Regions from separate parts of the Homo sapiens genome. Here region 2 is linked to region 1. The links come from fine-mapping of genetic effects on gene expression. A gene starts in region 1. The other region holds a variant in brackets. All regions are shown on one strand. Distances are from middle to middle. Region 1 holds the start of SKIC8 (SKI8 subunit of superkiller complex). Region 2 holds the start of LOC105370910 (a long non-coding RNA gene).

The links. PIP is the estimated chance that this variant, and not a neighbour inherited with it, causes the effect.
Region 2: its variant is the best candidate, but not a certain one, in a credible set for the expression of SKIC8 in T cells (TOPMed, PIP 0.85).

What each region holds. Positions count from the first base shown.
Region 1 is chr15:78,296,516-78,301,891 of GRCh38, forward strand. SKIC8 (SKI8 subunit of superkiller complex) reads right to left here and starts at 3,094. Exons shown (of 11, transcript NM_025234.3): 1 at 3,047-3,094. RefSeq lists enhancers at 2,292-3,259, 2,812-3,161, 3,260-4,226, 3,402-3,491.
Region 2 is chr15:78,275,895-78,281,270 of GRCh38, forward strand. It overlaps DNAJA4 (DnaJ heat shock protein family (Hsp40) member A4), which reads left to right. Exons shown (of 7, transcript NM_001130182.2): 6 at 4,151-4,251; 7 at 4,351-5,376. The coding sequence ends at 4,566. It overlaps LOC105370910 (a long non-coding RNA gene), which reads right to left and starts at 2,906. Exons shown (of 2, transcript XR_932500.3): 1 at 2,314-2,906. RefSeq lists an enhancer at 733-1,027. The variant C/T (reference allele first, on the strand shown) is at 2,877.

The DNA.
Region 1 (5,376 bases):
ACTTTTTTTTTTCGAGATAGGGTCTTGCTCCATCACCCAGACTGGAGTGCAGTGGCACAATCATGGTCAATGCAGCTTCAACCTCCCAGGCCAAGTCTTGCTCCCACCTCAGCCCGAGTGGCTGGGACTACAGGTGCGTGCCAACATGTCTGGATATTTTAATTTTTTGTAGAGATGGGGTCTCCCTATGTTGCCTAGGCTGGTCTTGAACTCCTGGGCTCAAGCAATCCTCCTGTCTTGGCCTCCCAAAGTGCTGGGATTACAGGTATGAGCCACCAGACTCAGGCTCAGGATGTCTTTACAGAAAATACACAGGTTTAGAAATGAAACCAATTACAGTAGGTTCTCATTATTCACAACAATTATGTTCTATGAAGTCGCTACAGACACTAAATTATCCAACACAGAACCACTGTTCCTTGGGGAAACAGGTTCCTGAAAGCCTCTGGGCACATTCTTGTCAACCAATCAATACATAATCATGTTTTATGTGTGTTTATGTTTAAAGGCACTTACTGAATATACATTAGTAATTCATTAATACTGAACTCATGCCTAAACAAAGCTTATCTAACACACATATTTTCTCCATAAGACAAATCACAATCTTCTTGCATTTAGAAGCACCTCAGCACTATGCTTGGGGGCTATCTCAAACAGTGGAATCACCGACAAAAAGCACAAAGATGAGAAAAATGTAGCACCAAAGACTGCAAAAATGACATTTGCTTACAATATGAGAGTTGACAAGAAGGCAGTGTCACCTTGTTTGACTTCAGTTGAGAACATGTGCATCAGGCAACTAAAATTTTTCACGTGAAAAAATGTCATGTCTTCCAAAGACCACAAAAGCATTGTAAGTATTAATTTGAGGGCTACAGACAAATTTTAGTAAGTAGGTGAATTCATAAATACAGAATCCACAAATAATGAGGATAGACTGTATGCTAAAATTTTATCAAAATACAAAAACATATGTGCTTCTTTACTGACACATTATATATGTGATCTAGAAGCAAATTTAATAACTACCATAATTTCGAAGTTGCAATGAGCTTACACAATATCATGATATGAAAATATCTATAATTTATATTCATAACAAAGTCACACTGCTAATAATGTGATTTGTTGCCTACATTCACAGTGGAAGAAAATGCTAAATTTCAGTTGGAGGTTAGGAAACATAAAGATGCAATTTTTCCTCTCAGCCAAGTTCACGGCCCTCGCAATTCTACCCATTGGCAGTTTAAGGGACCACACAGTTAAGGCATCCAGGTTCAGGTTACTTTCTTTAAATCTGCCAGCCTAAAAAGCTGCCGAAGGTTTTCCAATAACAGGAAATCAAACAAACAAACAATTTATAACTAATCCTTGCCTATGAAGATCTCAAATTGGTAGTGTTTTGTTTTGGTTTTGTAAAGACAAGTTCTCATTATGTTGCCCAGGCTGGTATCAAACTCCTGGCCTCAAACGATCCTCTTGTCTTGGCCTTCCAAAGTGCTGGGATTACAGACAGGTTGGTAGTGTTTTATTCATTTGTGACCCATGAACAGGGTTCTTTCTGCCCAGGGTAGGAAAGACAGGAAAGTGCTCAAGCCAGTTTGGCTAATGGGAATGGTATTCAACCTCTGCTTCAGCACAGCCTTCTGCCTGCTGAAGCACAGGCTTGTCCTCTTCCCTGTCATTCTGGGCCTCACATTTGGCAATGGATAGAAACAAAAAAAGGAGGAAGGCTTGCGGTAAGCCAGCTTCCAAAAACCCGGGCTCCAAAAGACAAGGGTGTGATTCTATCAATGAGTGCACATTTGAGGATGTACAATGAATCCGGTCCTATTTTAAGTAATACACAAAGATTTAGCTCACTGAAACCTCATAACCCCGCTTACTAGGTACAGTAGTTCTTTAGCTGAGGTTTTGATTTCCACAGTTCCAGAGGTCAACCGTAGTCCAAAAATAGGTGAGTAGAGTGCAGTAAGATATTTTGAGAGAGACCACATTCACATACATTTTATTACACTGTTATAATTCTATTTTATTATTATTGTTGTTATTCTCTTATTGTGCCTAATTTACGAATTAAACTAAGTAATCACAGGTATGTATGTGTAATCTGTATGAGAAAAAACACAGTATAGATGCTCCTCAACTTACAATGGGGTTACTTCCCAATAAACCTATGTAAAGTTGAAAAATTGTAAGTCAAACCACGGTAAGTCAGTCAGGGTCCTTCACTATCCAAGATTTCAGACATCCACTGGAACGTACACCCCGCAGATAAGGGGGGAACTACTATTTTTTTATTATCAGTTCCACTTTTCTAGTAAGAAAAGGGAGGCTTAGAAGCGGTTAAGGAAGCTTCCCCAAGGGACACTAAAAGGTGGATACAAGCTATAGTATAGGCTACCAAGATACACTACCTCTTACTTCAGGGTCTTATGAAGGTCAGAGCTAAGAGACTTTAGACCTTAGCCCTCTCTTGCCATCTTCTCTCTTTGGGAAACTTTTCCCTAAATTTCCTAGGCAGAATTCATCACTGACTCAGTGTTTCCAAGGAACACTACAGATGCCTCTATGAAACTACTCAGGCAAGTCAACAGCCCACAGTATTGCACGGTACTTGGCGTAAAGCGAACCCAGCCTCTGTCTGTACCCGTCCAGTGATGTCTGTATCTGTCCAGCACGCTACCTAAGACAGCGTGGCCCACTACTGGAAAACTTCGGTTAATACAGCCCTCCCAGCTACGGATAAATGATCTCCTCCGCAGAGAAACCAGCCCTAATCTCGATACTGCCCAGAACATTCTCAGGACGCAAAAGGAGGCCACCCACGGGCCTCCCCCACTCCCCTCAGGCCCCGTACACCGAGGAACAGCCAGGGCAAATGGAGCCATGGAAGCCACCCTCAGGCCCCAGGGCCTGGAGCATCCCTGAACGGACCTGCTTACAGGCAGCCTCGGGCCCAACCTCGCTCACTCGCCCTCTGGCCTGGACTGTCAACGGCCCTAATGACCCCAATCCCCAACGGCCCTGCGCTCCAACTCACCACTGCACTGCCAGGCTGCACGTCGGAAGCCGGGCTCCGCGCGACTGCGACGCGCAAAGATGAGCTATCGAAGGGGCGGGGCATCGCGCCGGCCCCGCCCTCACGGCTCGGAGCACTCCGCAGCGCCCGTTGCCGTCGCTATGGCGGGCGCGGGGCAGACGCCGACGAGGGTGGGCGGAGAGAGGAGGGAGGAAGCCAGGTCCTGCTTCCAGAGGAGTGGTAGTTGGAAATTTGCTTCCGGAAGCGCAGACGTTTAGCTTCCGGCAACTGCAGGTTTAGAGGTTTGTGTTGCAATTTCATTTTGTACTTTTGAGATTGGACTAAAGCTAATAACTTCTGTTGCTGAAATAAATTCAGTGAAATCGAGCTTTGTCTTTCAAACTGCTAGTCATGACCCATTAACGTGACAGATATCAGTTTAATAGGTTGTCAACTGACTTTTTTTTTTTTTTTTTTTGAGGGCCAGGCAGAGTAGCTCACGTCTGTAATCCCAGGACTTTGGGAGCCGAGGTGAGAGGCTTGCTTGAGCTCTGGGTTTCCAGACCAGCCTGGGCAACATAGCGAGAGACCTCGTGTCTACTAAAAATAAAAACAATTAGCACATGCCTGTAGTTCCAGTTACTTGGGAGGCTGAGGCAGGAGGATCGCTTAAGCCCTGGAGGTTGAGGCTACATTGAGCCGTGATGACGCCACTGCACTCCAGCCTGGGGAACAGAACTAGACCCCGTCTCAAAAAAAAAAAAAGAGATGGGGCTGGGTGTGGTGGCTCATGCCTGTAATCCCAGCATTTTGGGAGTCGGAGTGGGTGGATCACTTGAGGTTAGGAGTTTTGAAATCAACCTGGCCAATATGGTGAAACCCCGTCTCAAGTAAAAAAAAAAAAAACAGAAACAAAAACAAAATTAGCCGGGTGTGGTGGCATGTGCCCGTAATCCCAGCTACTTGGGAGGCTGAGGCAGGAGAATCGCTTGAACCCTGGAGGCAGAAGTTGCAGTGAGCACAGATCACACCACTGCACTCCAGCCTGGGCAACAGAGTGAGACTGTCTCGAATAACAACAACAAAAAAAGATGGGAAGAGGCTCATGCCCCATTATGGAGGCCGCCCTGTGGCTCAGATGTGGTGGCTCACTCCTGTAATCCCAGCACTTTGGGAGGCCAAGGGGGGAGGATTGCTTCTGGCCGTGATTTCAAGACCAGTATGGGCAACATGGCGAGACCCAATCTCTACAAAAAATTTTAAAGTTACAGACGCAGTGGTGTGCACGTGTAGACCCAGCTGCTCAGGAGGCAGAAGTGAGGATCACTTGAGCCCAGGAGTTTGAGGCTGCAGTGAGCTATGATTGGGCCACTGCACTGTAGCCTGGGTGACAGAGTGAGACCCTGGCTCTAAAAAATATTTTTCGAAAAAACTAGTTTTGAAGTTCAAATATATATATAGAGAGAGAGACGGAGGACTATTAGACCACTTACAACTAGGTGAAGTTCATCTTTGGGGGCTTTTTTTTCTTTTGAGACTGAGTCTTGCTGTGTCACCCAGGCTGGAGTGCAGTGGCGCAATCTCGGCTCACTACAACTTCTGCCTCCTGGGTTCAAGTGATTCTCCTGCCTCAGCCTCCCCAGTAGCTGGGACTACAGGCACCCACCACCACACCCGGCTAATTTTTTTTTGTATTTTTTTTTTTAGTAGAGACGGGGTTTCACCATGTTGGCCAGGCTGGTCTCAAACTCCTGACCTCAGGTGCTCCACCCACCTCTGCCTCCCAAGTTGCTGGGATTACAGGCATGAGCCACTGCACCTGGCCATCTTTGGGGGCTTTTTGAGGAGGCTATGTGTGGTGAGAAATTGGCAAATACACCCACATCTCCCAGGACCTATTCTCTTGTCCTCAGTAATCTCACATTAACACAAAAGAGAAGACATCCTGCAGCTCTTCTGCTGCACACATGACTTCCCTGCATGCCAGCATCCTTAACCCTCAAGTTCACATGTTTCAGAGTGATATGACTAATTTTTCTCAGTCACATTGACTGGAGAGCTATTTCTCTCCTTCCCAGCTCTGTGACATCTCTGTCCATAGAAATTTCATCCAGCCCCAGTGGACCCTCTGCATGTCACTGGCTTAAAAAGTTTGGGTCAAAGTGAGCAGACTTCAAGACTGAATTGTCAAAATTCTTATGTGGCATCTCTTATAAGTCAAGATATCCTTGTAACCATTCTGGATCTATTGGACCAGGGTCAGGCATGTGCCCCTGAAGCTAAGGAAGAATGTACAAATTATATCATGAAGCCAGTGAGCTGATTTTCAAACTTAGATTGACTTAAGTGCT
Region 2 (5,376 bases), 21 kb before region 1:
GGGCATCTGTCGCCTTGAGTATTTATTTCTTTGTGTTGGGAATAGTTCCCCTGATTTCACATTTAAGGTCAAATTCTGTTACACAAATTAGTATGATGTGATTTTCTCTAAATTTAAAACTGTCCCTAATAACTCTGGATAATTTATAAAGTTCTTGTATATTCTCCTAGAAAAAATATTCAGTTGGGGGGAAAGTCTCAAATAAGAATCTTGGGGCTCTGAATTTTAGATGAATTCTGGCAATTAAACTTAAGTTTTTAAAAATTTATTTTTGTATAAGAAAACAGCTTAATAGGTGGTGTTTTTCTATCAAGTGGTGATTTGTGCTGATTCATCCACATGTTCCTGTAGCCTCTGTTGTTCATTACATGAGTTACATTTTAAAATAGAATTTTCCTGTAAGAAAGACTTTGCCTATCAGTTTATCCTTGGAGGTTTCCACAGGAATTGCTGGTCTGCACACACCCATGGGAGCCAGAGGGAGATGCCTCTAGGCCGAAAGGGTTCCTGAGGCCTGAGCTCAGCCCCCAACCCCCCTGTAGACACCAGGGCACTCATCTCCCAGGAGGGTTGGTGTGTTCACTGTAGTTGAGGGTTTGTGTGGGCACCAGAGCACCTGCCTAGAAGGGGCTGAGAAGGGAGAGAGGCCAGGCCAGGGACCTTGACTTGAAGCTGCTTCTGAATAGCACTAAGGTCAGCTGTGCATAGCAAAGAATGTCTGGATGGGTGTGGTGGCGGCTACGCCACCGAAGCAGCCTGGGCCCCAGCACCAGCCATTTGCAGTGTTGCTGTAGTCCCCTCACTGGCCGTGGGGCTGGGATTACCTTTTTCTATGGCCATTTGAGGTTTGGTGCAAAAGGGGTAGGTTCAGGGCAGGCAGGGAGGTAACCACCAATAAGCCTGCCCCCAGGGCAGTGGCAGCTGGAGATAAGACTCAAGTCTGGTGGGGTGACTGAGGCCTGGACTTCTGTTCCCTCCGTGTCCCTCTCCCCCTTCCCCTCCTTGTCTGCTTTTCTCTTCCCAGCCTTGTGCTCTTTTTCTCTTTCCTCTCTTGGATTCTTTCAGGTTCCTCCTTTCCTGGGGATAGTAGGAAGCAGAATTATATATCCAAGCCTTGATCGGTTTGTGGAGTTTTAAAATAAACTTATTTGGAAACAATTTCAAGCTTACAAGAAGTTGTAAATATAAAAATAGTCCGAGGCCCATCCATATATGATTTGTCTGATGTTAACATTTTACCCCATTTGGTTTGTCATTTGATCTGTGTCTGTTTTTATTTATTTTTAAAATTTGTTCATTTATTTTTTGAGACAGGGGTCTTGCTCTGTCGCCCAGGCTGGAGTGCAGTGGCGTGATCTCAGCTCGCTGTAACCTCCACCTCAGCCTCCCGAGTAGCTGGGACAGCCACATGCCACCACGCCCATCTAATGTTTGTACTTTTTGTAGAGACGGGGTTTCGCCATGTTGCCCAGACTTGTGTGTGTTTTTATACATATACTTAATCCAGGATTGGGGGAAGCACTGCAGTATAATGCAAAATTTGCATGAAAATTTAAAATAAAACACCTTCCCTTAGGCTTCCATAGACCTCCCAAGGCACCCATTTCCTCCCTCAAGGAGGAGTTTGAGGATCACAGTTTACACGAAGCTCCAGACCACTGGTTGTGAGCTCAACACCCTGGCATTGTGTCCAAGATGCCCTTACGTGGTCACAGCCCAGATCCTAGCCCTCCTGAGCCGGGGCTGGGAAGCATCTGTGTGTAACTTCTTTGGGAAAGCCTGTCCTGTCCAGGGGTGGACTATTTGAGGTCCTGGGCCCCACCAAGAGCCAGCGTTCCTTGCTGTCTCAGCTGACCCCAGCCTAGGGAGCCGGGAGCCAAATGGAGTGAGGGTGGTGGAGAAAGAGCCCCAGAGGGAAGGAAGTGGCAAATCCCAAGAAATCCATTTCCTTCTTTATTATAAGGAAGGGTGGAGCATCCAGGAAACCTGCCGTTGGAGAGTTCTTTGGGGATTTGTTTGTCCTTTTTGTTTTGTTTTTGTTTTTACTTTGTTCTCTTTTGCACCCTCTCTTTTCTTCACCCCTCTTTTGTGTTGGCTTATTTCTTGTTTCTCCATTTTCTCTTCTCCCTCTTCTTCCTCTTTTCTGCTGTTGAAATGCCTTCTTCCCCAGAGCCTTTTAGCCTGTTATGAGCATTGCTGAGGATTGGATTAATTAAAAAAGTGATTTTGGAGCCACACAAGGGTGTGATGGCCCTGCCTGCAGGCAGGTATTTACCTGCCGGGAGAGCCTAACTCGTGGTCTTCTTCTCTTACCTGTAGTTTTCCATGCTTGGTCAGTTTCCCAGCTCCCAGCAAGCTAGAAGCAGAAGCATGGGGAGTAGGGCTTGAGAGCAGCAAGAAGCGACACCTGATAGGAATGGGGAGACAGAAAAACCAGTCATATGTAACTTAACGAAGGGGATATGTTCTGAGAGATGCATTGTTTGGCGATGTCGTTGTGGTGTGAACACCATAGAATGTACTCACACAGACCTAGATAGCATAGCCTGCTACACCCTAGGCTGTGTGGCATAGCCTGTTGCTCCTGGGCTAAAACCTGCACAGCAGGTTGCTGTACTGAATACTGTGGGCAGTTGTAGTACGATGCTGAGTATGTGAGTATCTGAACATAGGAAAGGTGCAGTAAAAGTTTGGTGTAATCTTTGCAACCATCTTCATAAATGTTGTTGACTGAAAGGTCACTATGCTGTGCATGACTGTATTTCTTTTTTTTTTGAGACGGAGTCTCGCTCTGTCGCCCAGGCTGGAGTGCAATGGCGTGATCTTGGCTCACTGTACACTCTGCTTCCCGGGTTCACGCCATTCTCCTGCCTCAG[C/T]CTCCCAAGTAGCTGGGATTACAGGCACACACCACCATTCCTGGCTAGTTTTTCTATTTTTTTTTTTTTTTTTTTTTTTTAGTAGAGACGGGGTTTCACTATGTTGATCAACCTGGTCTCGAACTCCTGACCTCGTGATCCGCCCGCCTCGGCCTCCCAAAGTGCTGGGATTACAGGCGTGAGCCACCGTGCCTGGCCATGACTGTATTTCAAAAAAAAAGAATAAACAGGAACACAAAAAGCCAGCAGCCTGGAGCAGTTTAGCTAAGGGGTTGCTGTCCTGCACAGTCAGTAGGCTCTGAAGGCCATGTCTGAACCACAGCCCTGCCTGCGAATGAATCTCAAGGATAGTCATTGGCTTACTTTATTTTTAAAACCTCCTCTTTAAAGATTTCCTCTTGAAGAGACAGCTCACTTTCTACATAGTCCCGTATGGAAGTGGACTGCTGAAGAAATTAGTGTTTCCATTCCCCTCCACCGTCTCCCCCATTTTTTCCGAACATTTCTTTCTGTCTTTGTCCATTTTCATCGCTGAGCTGAAGAGCATGCTTTATCAGAAACCCTTTTGTCCCTTTCCTTTTCCATGCTTAGAGGGAAGTTTCTGACTTGGGAGAACGCCTTAGAGTTCTTGGGGTCTGAACTCCTCTGATGCCTTCCAAAGTCACGTAGCTGTAAGACCCAGCGGGTGCCAGCCGGGAGGGTGACTCCAGCTCAGCAGCATGTATGGAAGTGCATTGTGACCATGAAGGAGTCTGCCAGTGGCCAAGCCACCTAGTGAGCTCCCTACCAAGGAACCTGGGTGTCACCTGCAGGTGGCCAAGAGCCAGTTTTTATGCCAGGCAGGGGACTGGTTGGACTCTATTGAGGCTTCTTCCTGTCTGTGGGGAGCACTCCTGTCCCCCTCGTGGTAGGGATACCTGTCACCCCACAAAGAGGCAGGGTGACAGGTGTTGGCCCCATTTTAGGCAGACTTGGGTGTCATGACTTCTAGTTCACTTGTTTTAAACCTACCTGTGATGGCAGCTGCACCATGCTGCCCTCTTGACACACTGCTGGAGCCCAGAGCACAGGCCAGAGTCTCAGCCTGAGCCCCTTCCCCAGGCAGTACCTGACAAGGATACCTGGGATTGGGGCCAGCTTTCCAGTCAGATGCCACGTTTCCTTTGCCCACTGCCACGGGGCACTAGGGCCTGCCGCAGGCTCTCCCATGAGGGAGAACGACCTCTGCAGGCCCCTCTGCCTTCCTCCTTCCTAATTGACCCTTTCTCTGGCAGGTGAGGTGATAAAGCACGGGGACCTGAGATGCGTGCGCGATGAAGGAATGCCCATCTACAAAGCACCCCTGGAAAAAGGGATTCTGATCATACAGTTTTTAGTAAGTTCACTATGTTTCATTGTCATGGACATATTATTAAATGCCTTAATTGGAAGGGGAAAAAACAGCCACCTTTCTTTCCCACCTCACCCTTTACAGGTAATCTTTCCTGAAAAACACTGGCTTTCTCTGGAAAAGCTTCCTCAGCTGGAAGCTTTACTCCCTCCTCGACAGAAAGTGAGGATTACAGATGACATGGATCAGGTGGAGCTGAAGGAGTTTTGTCCCAATGAGCAGAACTGGCGTCAGCACAGGGAGGCCTACGAGGAGGACGAAGACGGGCCCCAGGCTGGAGTGCAGTGCCAGACGGCATGACGTGGTGCGGGGCAGCGTGGCCCCACCGGACTAGCACATGATGAATGTAAAGTTGGCACAATGAAAATGACATCGCTTTAATGGCCTTGTGTTTGGGATGTCCTGTGTATGTGTTCAGCATTCTTAATTGCTGAGTGTCTTTTTGGCTTTTCTTTTGGTTGTAACTTAAGTTATAGCTTAATTTATATTTAAATGTTTTAAGTATAAATCACCTCTAGTCTGCATATGGAATCTGTTCATTTCTATTTTCAGGATATACTTTTGAGATGTCAGTGATTGCACCAATACTTTGTGCTTCTAGTGGCTTTGCCATAATTCAGTGTCACCAATAAGGCACAGCCCAGTTAGCAGCTTAGCCCCCCTAGCAAACCCCAAGGCACAAAGTGGGCATCCTGACTCATCTCTAGGTCTGTGGTTTCTCCCCTCTTCCCTTGGCAGAGTTATTGAGGGCATGATCTCAGGGCTGCTAAGATAACATTTCTGAGGATTCTAGATGATCCTCTTAAAGAATAAAAGCACATCCGTGGATCGGACATGGCTGCATGTGCCTGCTTAACAGGGCCAACTTAGTTCCTACTGTTCTGTGCCCTTCAGTGGATGGAACGTGAGTGTCTGATCATCTCTCTTGGAAGTTTTCTGAACCTTCCAAGCTCTGTGGTGAGGACAAACCAGTGTTTGAATCATATGCTGATAACTGTTTGCCTGTGACCCTCACACCTTGTTCTTCAGGGTTTTAATGATTTTCTGTTGACAACTTTTGCAATGCTTTCCCACCAAAGTGCTTACTTGTAAAGAAAACTAAATCCTTCT